Linked DNA regions of Homo sapiens. The protein of the gene in region 2 purifies or fractionates together with the protein of the main gene of each other region. This does not show direct contact. Each region holds a gene or a part of one and is shown on either strand. Other genes may lie near its edges. The genes, in order: CTSC and WFDC9.

Evidence for each region.
Region 1: the proteins of WFDC9 (region 2) and CTSC purify together in Homo sapiens (affinity purification with mass spectrometry; 2 studies listed by BioGRID and IntAct, with this or other methods). This does not show direct contact.

The regions. Positions count from the first base shown.
Region 1 is NC_000011.10:88,299,322-88,306,957, forward strand, and holds part of CTSC (dipeptidyl peptidase 1 isoform a preproprotein), read right to left. Parts: intron 1,325-7,636; coding exon 1,209-1,324; intron 1-1,208. UniProt on the Homo sapiens protein: Thiol protease. Has dipeptidylpeptidase activity. Active against a broad range of dipeptide substrates composed of both polar and hydrophobic amino acids. Proline cannot occupy the P1 position and arginine cannot occupy the P2 position of the substrate.
Region 2 is NC_000020.11:45,628,014-45,635,617, forward strand, and holds the start of WFDC9 (protein WFDC9 precursor), read right to left. Parts: upstream 3,272-7,604; 5' UTR 3,190-3,271; intron 3,184-3,189; exon of another isoform or gene 3,006-3,183; coding exon of another isoform or gene 2,857-3,005; intron 1,892-2,856; coding exon of another isoform or gene 1,801-1,891; exon of another isoform or gene 1,726-1,800; intron 1-1,725. Other genes in the region: WFDC10A (WAP four-disulfide core domain protein 10A precursor), read left to right, coding at 1,801-1,891, 2,857-3,005.

The DNA.
Region 1 (7,636 bases), on a different chromosome or scaffold from region 2:
CAATTATCTTCAAATTTATCTTATTTCCAATCCCACTTTCCAAAGAAGCCCTCCCCAGGAAATTGAGAAGGTAGGGAAAGATTTCAGGACCTATACTTTCTTTAGAGCTGAAGAGCCCAGAATAACTGGTAGAAAAGCAAAGAGACGAGACCCTTGGTGTCAGATGAAAAACAGAAATGTTGCTGACTGGCTGTTATAAGACCCACTTGGGGCTCTCAACATTCAGAACACTGCAAGAATTCAGTGAGATGGGAGCTTGGAGGGCAAGTGATGAAAATGAGACACGGCAGAGACTGATTATCACTAAAAGTTTAGGAAAGGGAAACAACAGTTTATCTTTGGGTACTATAAATTTATAATCCTCCCAGGAGACACTAATCAGAATGTTTCCAGACAGCAAATACTAAACCTATTTTATAGTAACAAATCAGCCATGGGTAGTATTATCTTCAAAATGAGCTTAGAAGTAATAAAACTGAGTATTGCATAGATTCTCCAAGTCATTGTTGGCTACAACTCAGGATAACAAGATAATTTGCTATCAAGTGCAGTTAGAGGACATGTTATGAAATCAACTCACATTGTATCAAACTTCTGAAAATAACTGGTAAAATTCAATAATAGGAATACTTTTCATGAACCTGGGTTCCGCCCTCACGCCATCACTCAGGAAGCTGGGTTAATACTTACCATCACATATCGTATTCTAATGTAAAGTGAATTGAAAGGTCCTTACACAGCTCAAAAAATCTACCAGGAAAATAATTTAAGGATTTATTTTACGGGTTCATGTAGTAATTAATGACTAAATTAATGGGGGTGGGGGAATACAGGAACAGGTATCAAAGAAAGATTCCAACAAACCACTTGCAGAATGGTACACAATTCTTTGCTTCTACTAGAATCTTTCCTACTAGGAGGACAAATGAGTTTGTCTTACATATCACTCTGATTGTCACTAGCTACCTGGAAAATATATTGAGAAGAGTACTGAATAAATGCTAAGCTCAGTAGAAAAGAAAATTTTTTACTAAAGTTTGTCATGGATATAAAAGGAAAGAATAATTCATAGGCCACCTATTTTCTATTTCTGTAAAAAGGGGATCATGCCCATTCCATCTAGGTATCCCCGAAATCCATCACACAGAGCAACTGTTCAATAAATAGTTCCAAACAAATTAACAAAAAACTTAGGCTTATTTTTTTACCTTGGTTTCGAACAGGACTGACAAAATTGATACCATGAACATTTCTCCAGTCCCAAGATGTTGGCAAATGCAAAATCTTTTGCTGTATTTCAGCAGTCAGTGGTGCAGGTTTGGGCCTAGAAAGGAAATATACATTTGATATCAACATATAATCTTTCCTTTGAGGATGATTTCCTAAACTCTACTATAATTCTATGATTTCAGCTACCAGACTAGCTAGGATCTAGATTCAGACCCAGAGCACCTGTTTTATGAGTGATTCAATGTGTCAATTACACAATGGAGTTGTGTAAATGGCTTTCATTCGCTGTTTCTTTTTCAGGATCTAGTATTGATAATTTTCCTTTGTGAAATGACACTGGTTTTGTATATCACTGTGATGTTATTTTTAGTTTGCCTGAATAGCTGCATTCTTACTCATTTTTGAAAGATTTTTGACCAAGAAAGAGATGAGAAGTAGAAGACATAAGAAGGGTTTAGAGAAAACAGAGGAATCACTGATGTTTGACTTAGGAGACAGACACATTGGTAGTGAGGTGGCTGTAAAAGAAGTGAAGTTGGCAAAGGGAAAAAAGGGTCTATGTGAGGCAGGAGAACAGGTTCTGGAGGCAGGGAACATAAGGCCAATTCACACTGACTTCCTAGAACTAAATAAAGTGGAAACACTTCAGCAATGGCAGGAATGCGAAGGGCTTTGTCACTTCACTTCATCCTCTCCGTTTACATGGGCCACAACCCCCAGGAGTAACACCCTCTCCATTAACACAAGGCCTATACTGAGTAAATGACTTTGTAACTTAACTCCACCCTCTTCATTTACATAAGGCATACACCAGGTAACCAATGGGAAACCTCTAGACGGTATTGAAACCCCAGAAAATTCTGTAACCAGGGCCTTGAATCATTTACTTAGGCCCACTCCCATCCTGTGGAGTGTGCTTTCATTTTCAATAAATCTCCGCTTTTGTTGCTTCATTCTTTCCTTGCCTCATTTGTGAGTTTTGTCCAATTCTTTGTTCAAGAAGCCAAGAACCTGGACACCCTCAACCAGTAACAAGCATAACACAGGCTGACTAGCTCCGTAAACAACAGATAAAACTGTTTCATTATAGAACCACACCTTATATGACAGTGTTGGGCTGTAAGACACACAAAGGAGAGTTGCCTAGGCCCATGAATGAACGGACATTTTTGGGAAGTGAGAAAATTGTTCTAACAGCTTCTCTGTATTAGCGATTTCACACATACATACACATGCACACACACACAAACACACGCGCGCACACACACACACACACACACACACAGAGAGAGAACCACAGCTTTAGACACATTCGACTTCTTGGAGTTTCCCCAAGACTGCCAAATGGCCTCTCTGTTCTATATCTTTATGCTGCTGCTCCTGTAACCTCAAGTGCCTGTTGCTCACCACTTAAAACTCCCCTAAGAGTTTTTCCCTAACTTGTAATTTTCAAAACTGCTCATAAAGTAGCCTCCACTCACCAGCCCCCAGCGAAAACTCACTTCCTCTCTCTCTCTGCTCCTTCAAATTTGTTTTTAGGGCACTAGTCACAATGTGGTAAAAATTATTTTTTGTTACTATAAACTATTTGAATTTCTTATTCAACTGGGCATTGTCATATCACACTGTTCTAGTTTTTCAGTGGTTACCAGATGTTTTTTACTAGGCTAAAATTTAGTCAATGGCAAAGATTCTTTCTGGGCTACTTCATGCCCTCTGCACCTATCCACAAATGGTCCCGTCTCTCACAGCTTCTCTTAGATATAACACAGGTTAAGAATACATGACAAGGGGCCAGGCGCGGTGGCTCACGCCTGTAATCCCAGCATTGGGAGGCCGAGGCGGGCGGATCACGAGGTCAGGAGATTGAGACCATCCTGGCTAACACAGTGAAACCCCGTCCCTACTAAAAATACAAAAAAAAATTAGCTGGGCGTGGTGGCGGGTGCCTGTAGTCCCAGCTACTCGGGAGGCTGAGGCAGGAGAATGGCATGAACCCAGGAGGTGGAGCTTGCAGTGAGCCGAGATTGCACCACTGCACTCCAGCCCGGGTGACAGAGCAAGACTCCGCCTCAAAAAAAAAAAAAAAAAAAAAAAAAAGAATACATGACAAAATGGAACTGAGATGAAACAAAGAGAAAAACAACAACGATTTCTTCAAAAATAGCAATTGTAACCTTGACAATTGTATAGATTACACAAACACTAGTTAATTGTTCACTAATTTTTTCTCCTAAGCCAGTCACATTGGTTGAAGATATACATGATACAGAGATAAATATGAGATGGTCATTAACAATATGGAAGACAATGTTAAGAGACATAATATACACAAAGATTACTATAACAAGTTACAGTAATGCTATAAAACACACAATTTGGACAAAGTCTATATAATCAAGGATCATAAAAATCTGTGCCTCATAGGTAATTTTATATATAGGGTGAGAGAAAAAACAAAGCTTGGACATTTCTTCTAAGATGTATAAATAAAAACTAAGATGCAAACAAACCATTTCCATCTTTGAATGGAAATAGTTTCTGTGGTTTCACATTGAGAGAGTATGTTGAAGAAGAAACTCAATTTTTTTTTAATTCTCTCACTGAACACTATCAACTGTCAACACAAAAGACTTCTGTGATCAAATGCATGTGGGTTTTTCCCCACAAATCAAGCAAGCAACCAATTTCACAGTGAATACTAGCTGGGTGTCCTCCAATCCAGTTTTGACACTGTGTACTTAGAGATGGCATCAGATCTCACAGGCTGAGGGCTCCGTCCCACAAAACTGCCCCCTACTTCTCATGCCAATTGAAAGCCCTAGGTTGTTTACCTGTGCTTCTGGCCAACCAGCTATAATGTGGGGATCCTATGACACCCTCCTTGGGTTCAATTAATTTGCTAGAGTGACTCACAGAACTCAGAGAAATACTAACTAATGTTTAGTGGTTTATTATAAAAGATACTACAAATGAAACAGATGAAGAAATGAGTAGGGCAAGGTATGGGGGAAGGGGCACACAGCTTCCATGCCCTCCCTGAACACGCCACCCTCCAGGAACTTCCACTTGTTCAGCTATCTGGAAGCTCTCTGCACCCTGTCCTTGTGAGCCTTATATGGGGACTTCATCAAATAGGCACAACTGACAACCATGTAGAGATGTGACTGGACATAAAGGGAATGATGTAAACACAGCAAGGCCTGTCCAGATTCTTCTGAGCCTCTCTCTGTTCAGTGTTCCTTCCTTTAGGGTATGACACAGGACATCTTTGGAAATGAAGGTCTTATGACCCAAGATCAGAAAGGCAGGAGAAGATTAGAGTGCTGCCCTGGGCAGGTGAGAGGAGGGCGGAAGAAGATCAGAGAGAGAGAGAGAGAGAGACTCTGTTTTCTGAGGCCTACTTCTGAGGCCTAATGTGCCCCAACGTTAAAAGATAGTGACAAGGGCTATGGGAGTTATGAGCCAGGAACTGTGGACAAAATCTAGTATGTGTTAACTAGTTGTCTTGTTTAAACCTAAGAATATACTAATATAAAGGATAAAAAAGAAATTTAAGTTTGGCAGCATAATGTAATTTCAGGGCATATGATTTTATCACTTACTATCTGTGTAACATTTGGCAAGGAACCTAACATTACAAAACTACAGTTCACTTCTATTAAAGTGGGTATAATCATGCTTACCTCAAAGGGTTGTTATGAAAATTCAATGTAATAATGGGTAACAAGTGCTTAGAACAGTGTTTTTCTCTGATAAGTCCTTAATAAAATGGCAGCTGTTATGAAGATAACATTCATATCATTAACAGGACTAAATAAGATGCTGATACAGTTTAAAGCAATTATCTGGCACAAAACAGTCATTACAATATTAAGTTCCTTTTTTCTACCATCCTATAAGGCAGAGATTTGCCCATCATTGCACACACAAACAAAACAAAAACAGTGTGAGAACTGAGGCTTAATGATGTTGTCAAAGGTGTTTGACCCAGAGCAACTCCATCTTGAATAGGAGCTGGGTAAGATGAGGCTGAGACCTACTGGGCTGCATTCCCAGACAGTTAAGGCATTCTAAGTCATAGAATGAGATAGGAGGTCAGCACAAGATTCAGGTCATAAAGACCTTGCTGATAGAACAGACAGGCTGCAGTAAAGAAGCCAGCTAAAACCCACCAAAACCAAGATGGCGATGAGAGTGACCTCTGGTCTTCCTCACTGCTACACTCCCACCAGCACCATGACAGTTTAAGAATGCCATGACAGGCCAGGTTTGGTGGCTCACATCTGTAATTGCAGCACTTTGGGAGGCCAAGGTAGGCAGATCACCTGAAGTCAGGAGTTCAAGACCAGCCTGGCCAACATGGCAAAACCCTGTTTCAACTAAAAATACAAAAATTGGCTGGGCATGGTGGGTCATGCCTGTAATCCCAGCTACTTGGGAGGCTGAGGCAGGAGAATCATTTAAACCCAGGAGGCAGAGGTTGCAGTGAGCCAAGATTGCTTTACCGCACTCCAGCCTGGACAACACAGTGAGACTCTGTCAAAAAAAAAAAAGAATGCCATGACAATGTCAGGAAGTTACCCTCTATGGTCTAAAAAGGGGAGGCATGAATAATCCATCCCTTGTTTAGCATACAATCAAGAAATAACCATAAAAATGGACAACCAGCTGCCCTCAGGGCTGCTCTGTCTATGGAGTAGCCATTCTTTTATTCCTTTACTTTCTTAATAAACTTGCTTTCACTTTGCATTGAGGACTCGCCCTAAATTCTTTCTTGCACAAGATCCAAGAGCCCTCTCTTGGGGTCTGGATCAGGACCCCTTTCCAGTAACACTGTGAAAATGAAGAGAGAGCAAGAGGAGTCTGGGGGATAAAAAGGTGAGAATTACAAACATTTTGAGTACAAGATACAGGATTGGCTCTTAATCTTTTGGCCCACATTCTTTACAAATCTAGTGAAAGCTCTAGATTCAGAAATGCTCATAAACAATAAATGCTGTCTGTAATTTCAGCAGTTTCAAAGACTCCCTATATCTCAAGTTAAGAATCTTTGAGAGTTTCTATTACGTCATTGGATTCTTAGAACAGAACTAATTTATAAACAAAAATGCTAGTGAAAAATCAGGAAGCCAGATTATAATATCTGCTTTCATATTTCCTACTTCACTCAATTCCATCTCCTTATCTTAAACCTTCTATAAAGCTTTAGTCATGAAAACAGTCCTTCATAAACCCAGCCCTTGTCTAAAACAAAAGTGGTTGGCTGGAGGGAGAAGGGAGCTTTAGCAGGAGTCCTCAGAAACATAGCATATGACACTTGGTAAAGCAGCTGTGACTGAGGCTCCCATCTTTCAGGCAGGAGCCACAGTCTCCCTAGGCTCAAGTGCTAACACTCCTCCTCTTGATGCTTGTTTGGATTTTTGTTGTTGAATAGATCTCAGCTTCCTGTCTCATGCAGATACATTAAGACACATTAGGACTTCACTTTGGTGAATTTGAGAAGGGGATATGATATGCTCCGTTTTCCAATTTTGATTAACTAGAGCATTTCACAGACAAGAAATTCTCTAGAATAAACTTGGAGAAATACTGCAAAAGATTCTTTTAAGAAAGGGGTAGAATTATGGGAGGATGCCATCAGTTGGACAGGAAAAACCTTCACATAGTCTCACAGTTGAAAAATGCCACACCTTAGCATTATTAGTCTGCAGATGAAAAAGTTAGTAATGTTGATATGGACAGGAGACAGGGAAATACTGGGTAGAAGAGGGTGGTCCCTCAGCAAAGGCCCCACCCTCAAGCCTGAAGACCTAAGGCCCTAAGAGAAGACAGGCATTTCTGTTTTCACACCAAAAAAGGTGCCTTTTGGCCCGCCATGCCCCCCATCCTTCCCCCATATAAACCCAAAATCTTAGCAGGCACAGATACAAGGAGCTGAACATCCAGAGGAGCAGAGGAACAGAGCGGCACAGAGCTGTGGAGAGTGGTGGGACAGCACAGCAGAAAAGGAGGGAAGAGGTATTTGAACCCAGAGGAGAACAGGAACAAGTGGACTCCAGGGGAAGAACACCTTTCCCCTCCATCCTCCTTCTCTGGCTGAGAGTCGTCTCGCGGAGAGCCACCTCCACCACTCAATAAAACCTTGTGCTCATCCTTCCAGCCCACGTGTGATCCAATTCTTCTGGTACACTGAGCAAGAACTTAGGCTGTCACATTGGACCCCTGCCCTTGCAATAAGGCATGGGGTCTAATGACCTGATTAACACAAGCCATCTGCAGACGGCTAAGCTGAAAGAGCACACTGTAACACATGCCCACTTGGGCTTCAGGAGTCTCCAACATCCACTCCTAGACACTGCTGTGGGGCCAGAGCCCAAAAGCACCCCCCATGGCCTCTGCACCT
Region 2 (7,604 bases):
ATCTCTTTACTAAATTTACTACTCTATCAATAATTTGAATGTATAAAGTATAGACCTTCTATATACCCATAAATCTTTCCCCTTATAAATGTCAGTACTTGAGCCTGCCACAATGTTGACTAGACTGCTTTAACAGAAAGCCTCCATCACATAATAACTGAAATACAATATACTTTTTATTTCTTGCTCAAATAATAATTCAAAATGAGTATTCTAAAACAATGGGTATCCTTTTTTCATGTGATAAAAGAAGTCAAGGACCCAGGCTCCTTTCACCTTTTGGCTTCACTAGGCTCTAGAACCTTGTTGTCATCTATACTGAGCTGGTGGAAAAGAAAAAGAGTGTGAAAGAGACTTGCCATCTTCTTAGGGTCTTGACCTAGTAGTGACAAGTCTGTTAGCCAAAATATTTACATTGTGGCACTGGCTGCAAGATGCTTGGGTAAGGAAAATGCAGCTTCTATTTGAGATGATGATTCTCCTCTATATAACCCCTCTTTGCTAGGATAGTTATGACAGTGTCCAGTCTCTAAATTGTTCATTTATGAGTGGACAAAAAGAAAAACTAGGAAAGAGAGAGCCTTTGGGAAGGGTCAAATACCACTCTGTAAACTATAGGTACAAATATCAGAATTTTTGAATTATAAAGGATATCGCAAAGGATACAGAGGAAGGTGCATAAGGTGAGATATGGGGGAAAGGCTAGAGAGCTTCCTTTGAATGTAAATTACAACTGTGGACTGAAGGAGTCTGCATTAGGAGTTCAGAATGTCAGAAAGAGGTTCAAATCTTTAGAAGATTATCATCATCAGAGGAAGAGGGTGATCTTCTTCCCAGCTTGCATGCCTACTGGGAGTCCAGTGACCCTAGGTTGTCCCCTCTTTCTCCTGTTAGGGAAGAAGAAACATCTTCACTTCTGAGAGTTCATTTCCTTCATGATATTCAAGGTCAGTGACCACCTCCTCCTGGACAGCCTGCCAAGCCTTTGACTGATAGGTCTCTCCCCCTGTCTGAGCTCTAAGATATTTACTATGTTTCTCCACTAGCCCTTCTGTCCCATGCCCTACAATAGTCTCTCTTTCTGTGTGTTTATGTGTGTTTAAATTTGTATATGTATATCTGTGTATGTGTTTATATACATTTATATATGAAACAGCTACTTACTCTTTCACTCAGGAATTCTAGCTCTCTTAGTCTAAAGAAATCAAAGATTTATAAATAAAAATAATATGACATTCTCTAGATTATTAGTAATTAGTACAATACAAATACTTGATTATTAGCATTTGAGAGCTGTGCAATTATGAAAATCCACATTTTGAGAAATACTTACATGATTAAATAAGGGTGGCAAAAATAGATAACAAAAGTTGTTTATATTAAAAGGATTGTTTATATTAAATATGGAGAGAAACTAAAAGATAATGCAATGAAACATCAGTTAATTCTAAGCAACTCTTTTTAACAATATATTTTTTCTTTTCTTTTTTCCATAAAACATTTTGTAATTAGAAAGCAGAAATAAATGATATCTTTCATTCTATCGGCAAGAACACAAGACTGGTTATGTGAAAGGAGGAGGCGTCATTCCTGCGGAAGCCCTATCCCACATGACGAACGACAAGGCCAGGGGCAAGCAAAAAGAGGAAGGACTCTCTTGCTCTGCTCCGACTTGGCCAGTAGAGGCAGTGAGGAGCTAAAGATCATTCCTTCTTTCCTTCCTTCACTCTCCGTAGACAGCTCTGCAGGGAAGTCTGTGACAACCTGGCCAGACATAGGGCTCACGATCTGATCAGAGTCATGGCACCCCAGACTCTGCTGCCTGTCCTGGTTCTCTGTGTGCTGCTGCTGCAGGCCCAGGGAGGATACCGTGACAAGAAGAGGATGCAGAGTAGGTGATGGGCTGCTGGATGGGTGAGGGGGAATTGGGTAGGGGGAATGGAGGGCCTGTGTCCAGTCTGAGTAGGACCTAGGAGTTGGAAACTCTCTGCATATCCAGCTCTGACCACAATGTTGTGTAGACTCTGGACTGTCCCTAAACCATGGCCCTCCAGCCCCTTAGCTGGCCCTGGGAATAGTAATGGGAATGAAGAAGAAACCTGCATATTTTGCTGTTCCTTCTCAATACTTAGAGAGAAATGGCACATCCCATAGTGAAAGGCGCACCAGGGCTGAGAATCCAGTGGGGAAAGCAAGACAATTATTATTTGATTTATGCACATTTGTGAGGAGTAAAGATTCAGAAGTGGTTATGACGGTAGGTGTAGGTGTAGAATGGGTATAAGTGTAGGGAAATAGGACATAAGACAAGCAAAAGTTGGGGTACACAGAGCCAAGTTAAGGTTATCATCAAAGGGGCAAGGAGAGTGGTGGTGGAAAGGGAACTAAAGAAGGGGCAGGAAGACTAGAGACAGTGACAGTGAGCAGAAGAGAGGGAGAGACAAGAGGCATGTTGATCCTCATCTCTGAATTCTACTATTCAGAGACTAGGAGAGAGTTTGAAAGATGTCTCATGCTTCTTTGAGCTCTCAGGATCAGACTGTAGATTCTTTGGTGGTGACTTCACCAAGGCCATGACTAGTAAGGGAGATGGAGTTCTGATTGCTGGTGTGTGGAGAAGGTCCAGGAAGCCCAGGCATTGTGGTCTAATGGGGTAAGGTGTACAGTGGAGAGACAGGATTTAAAATATGACCAATCACTAGGATTTGGTGATGGGCAGGAAGGTAGTTCTATGAAGAAGGAATCCAGGAGTATCATGACTGAGACCTGGGTTCAAGGGTCTTGGAGGAGGCTTCAGCTTGAGAAAAATGTTCTCTAGGAAACTGCGTTTATTTACCGTTCTATTCTCCTTGTCAGAAACACAGCTATCCCCAGAAATCAAAGTCTGCCAGCAGCAGCCTAAACTATATCTATGCAAACACTTATGTGAATCTCACCGAGATTGTCAAGCAAATAACATATGCTGTTCTACCTACTGTGGGAATGTTTGCATGAGCATCCTGTGAGTGGGAGAGTGGGCTGGGATGTGCATCCTGCTTCCCAACTCCTCTATCCAAGACTGTGCCCACATCCGAAGCACAAGGACCTCAAGTCACCAGCATAAGAACATCAACAGGAATGCCGCCCTCTCTACTGTCTGAACCCCTTGTCCCTGTCAAATAAACCAGAACAAATGCCCAGGGATCCTACCTCTTTTGCTGCCACTACAGATGATCATTGAGAGCTCACTGTGGCCCCTACAGATGCCCCACTTGTCTTGCGTCCTGGTGTTCAATTTCTCTCCCTGGCTATGCTTCTCTACCCTCCCTCTCCCTCTTTGGCCCACGTATCCCTGCCAGCCCTCAGGATGCCCAGCCCCTTGCTGTTTTGCTCACTGAACCAGTACTCCCAGGGGGAGGAACTGCTCATGTGCAGCATCTCCTGATGCTAAGGAGAACATTTCTCACCCTGGAGTCAGAAGGACCCATTAAGCATGAGATGGGTGGCAGTTAGAACCCGAGATAAAGAGTGGGAGGCCCCCAAGCACTGCTTTGGTCTCCTTAGCCTTGGTGCACCGCCATCCTATGCTCCCCAATCTCTCTGTAAGGTTCAGATTACTGTCTATCATTAGGATAATGAGTCCCAGGAAGTCCAGCAAGCCCAAGGCCACAAGAGAGTGAGAGGATATGATGTGACTGGAAGAGGGTGTTTCCTCTAGGATCACTTTTTCCTCACTTCTCTCCATTACCTGAGACCAGAGGCATCCTAGTGAGAGTGAGTGCCTGCACCAACCCCAAAGCTCCTCCTATCCAGCACCCACCAATATGGCTACTCCTCTGATGGGACCCATTTTGGGCCTCAGGATCTGACACTCCAGCACCTTCCATTAACTGAATAGTCCTTATCTTTCCCAAGCCCTCTTCCTTAGGGGCTGGTTCATTCTCTTTTCTTTAGATCAAGAGGAACACTAAGGGATGTGGAACAGGTGGTTCATGCTGCTGTTGCTAAGGAGTAATTGGCACAGAGTGGCTATGGGTCTTCCCTGTCATCCTACTGTGAGTTGGTGGAAATTAATCAGTGTGGTACAGAATCTCCCACTCTGCAATCGCAACTCCTCTGAAATGATCCTGGGGCTAGATCCAGGGTTGGGTCACATGTAGCTAACTGGGACATGAAGCCAAATGTGAAGAGGTTTCAGGAGGATAGGCCATGCCCAGAGGCAGGTGTGCAGTGTTATGCTCCAGTCTAGTGCTTCTTGCTGGGCCATTCAATGAAAGAGACATCAGAGAAGAAAACTTCCTTCATCAGACCAGAGGCTGTGAGCCACCTCTGAGGCATCACCGGGCTCTGGGTATCTCAGGCTTGTCTTCACCTTTCTCAAGAGCTTCCCTTGGACAAGGAGGTCTTAGGAAAGAGATCATGATCAACCATCAACACAGACACCATCAGATGTACTCTGTGGGCTGTAAGGGCATGATCTCCAAGAGACCTTATTTGGTGTTTCCTTGGATAGCCTCCCTTACCAAGCATCCTCTCAAGCCACCCCCAAACATGCCTACTAGACACTACAGGCATATCTTGTTTTATTGAGCCTTGCTCTATTGCACTTCACAGCTATAGCGTTTCATACAAATTGAAGGTTTGTGGCAACTCTGCATCGAGCAAGTCATCTGGCACCATTTTTCTAACAGCATGTGCTTACTTCATGTCTCTGTGTCACATTTTGGTAATTCTCAAAATATTTCAAACTTGCTAGGCGCAGTGGCTCATGCCTGCAATCTCAGCACTCGGGAGGCCAAGGCAGGTGAATCACCTGAGGTCAGGAGTTCGAGACCAGCCTGACCAACATGGTGAAACTCCGTCTTTAATAAAAATACAAAATTAGCTGAGTGTGGTGGCGCATGCCTGTAATCCCAGTTACTTGGGAGACTGAGGCAAGAGAATCGCTTGAACCTGGGAGGTGAAGGTTGCAGTGAGCTGAGATCTTGCCATAGCACTGCAGCCTGGGCAACAAGAGCGAAACTCCATCTCAAAAAAAAAATTTCAAACTTGTTTTATTATCATATCTGTTGTGATGATCTGTCATCCATAATCTTGGTTATTACTGTTGTAATTGTTTTGGGACACTATGAACTGCGCCCCTAAAAAATGATTAATGGATAAATGTTGTGTGTGTGTTCTGACTGCTCCAACAACTGGCCATTTCCCCATCTCTCTCCCTCTCCTCAGGCCTCTCTATTTCCTGAGACATAACAATATTAAAATTAGGCCAATTAATAACTCCACAATGGTCTCTACGTGTTCAAGTGATAGGAAGGGTTCTATGTCTCTCACTTTAAATGAAAAGCTGGAAATGATTACAGTTAGGAAGGCATGTCAACAGCAAAGATATGCCAAAAGCTAGGCCTCTTGTGCCAGTTAGCCAAGATATGAATGCAAAGGAAAAGTTGTTGAGGGAAATTAAAAGTGCTACTCTAGTGAACACATGGATGATAAGAAAGCAAAACAACCTTATTGCTGATATGGAGAAAATTTTAGTGGTCTGGGCAGAAGATCAAACTAGCCACCACATTCCCTTAAGCCAAAAACCTAACCAGAGAAAGGCTCTAGCTCCCTCCAATATTATGAAGGCTGAAAGAGGTGAGAAAGCTGCAGAAGAAAAGTTGGAAGTTAGCAGAAATTATTTCATGAGGTTTAAAGAAAGAAGCCATCTCCGTAATATAAAAGTGCAAAGTGAAGCAGCAAGTGCTAAGGTAGAAGTTGCAGCAAGTTACCCAGAAGATCTTGCAAAGTGATGAAGATGTCTAAATTAAACAATAGATCTTCAGTGTGGAAAAATAAGCCTTCTGTAGGAAGAAGATGCCATCTAAGACTTTCATAACTAGAGAGCAAAAGTCAATGCCTGGCTTCGAAACTTGAAAGGATAGGCTGACTCTCTTGTTAGGGGCTAATGCAGCTGGTGACTTTAAGTTAAAGGTAATGATGATCATTTACCATTCTGAAAATTCCAAGTCCCTTCAGAATTCTGCTAAATCTACTATGCCTATAAATAAGACACCATCTTGATGATAGCACATCTATTTACAGCATGGTTCACTGAATATTTTGAGTCTACTTTTCACACCTAGACACATTTTGAGTCTACTTTTGACACCTAGACACCTACTGCTCAAATAAAAAATACTCATTCAAAATACTACTCCCATTGACAACGTGCCTGGTCACCCAAGAGCTCCAATGGAGATGTACAAGGAGATTAATATTGTTTTCATGCCTGCTAACACAATATACATTCTACAGCCCATGGCTCAAGAAGTGATCTTGACTTTCAAGTCTCATTGTTTAAGAAATACATCTTATAAGGCTATAGGTGACATAGATAGTGATTCTTCTGATGGATCTGGGCAAAATAAATTGAAAACCTTCTGGAAATGATTCACCATTCTAGATGCCATTAAGAACATTCATGATCGACAGGAGGAGGTGAAAATATCATCACTAACAGGAGTTTGGAAGAAATTGATTCCAACTCTCATGGCTGACTTTGAGAGTTTCAAGACTTCATAGAGGAGCCCACTGCAGATGTGATAGAAATAGCAAGAGAACTAGAGTTAGAAGTTGAGCCTGAAAATGTGATTGAATTGCTGGAATCTCATGATAAAACTTGAATGGATGAAGGGTTACTTCTTTTTTTTTTAAGAGATAGGATCTTACTCAGTTGCCCAGGCTGGAGTACAGTGGCATGATCAGAGCTCACTGCAGTCTTGAACTCCTTGGCTTGAGCTATGCTCCCACCTCAGCTTCCCTGGTAGCTAGAACTACAGGCATGCACTACTGCCCTTGGCTTTTTTTTTTTTTTTTTTTTTTTTTTTTTTTTTTTTTGGAAAGACAAGGTCTAGCTAAGTTCCCCAGGCTGATCTCAAGTTCCTGGCCTCAAGTGATCCCCTCCTACCTCGGCCTCCCGAAGTGCTGAGATTATTATAGGCATAAGCCATGGCACCCAGTCAAGGAGTTGCTTCTTATGGATGAGCAATGAAAGTGGCTTCTTGAATTAGAAACTTCTCCTGGTAAGGATGCTGAAAACATTTTTGCTACTTGGGAGGCTGGGGCAGGAGGATCACTTGAACCCAGGAGTTTGAGGCTGCAGTGAGCTATGATCCTTGCCACTGCACTCTAGCCTGGGTGTTAAGACAAGACCCTGTCTCTTAAAAAAAAAAAATAGCAACTCTTCATCCATGAAAGTTGTATCATTAGACTGTTGAAATGACAACAAAGGATTTAAAATGTTACATAAACTTATGATAAAGCAGTAGCGGGATTTGAGAAGATTGACTCCAATTTTCAAGGAAATTCTTCCGTGGAAAGAAATTCAAACAACATCACATGCTACAGAGAAATCTTTCATGAAAGAAATAGTCAACTGATGCAGCAAACTTTATTGTTGTCTTATTTTAAGAAATTTCCATAGCCACTTTAGTAACCACCACCCTGGTCAGTCAGCAGCCATCAACATTGAGGCAAGACTCTCTACCAGCAAAACAATTATGACTAACTGAAGGTCAGATGATCACTAGCATTTTTAGCAGTAAAATACTTTTAATTATATACACTGTTTTTAACATATA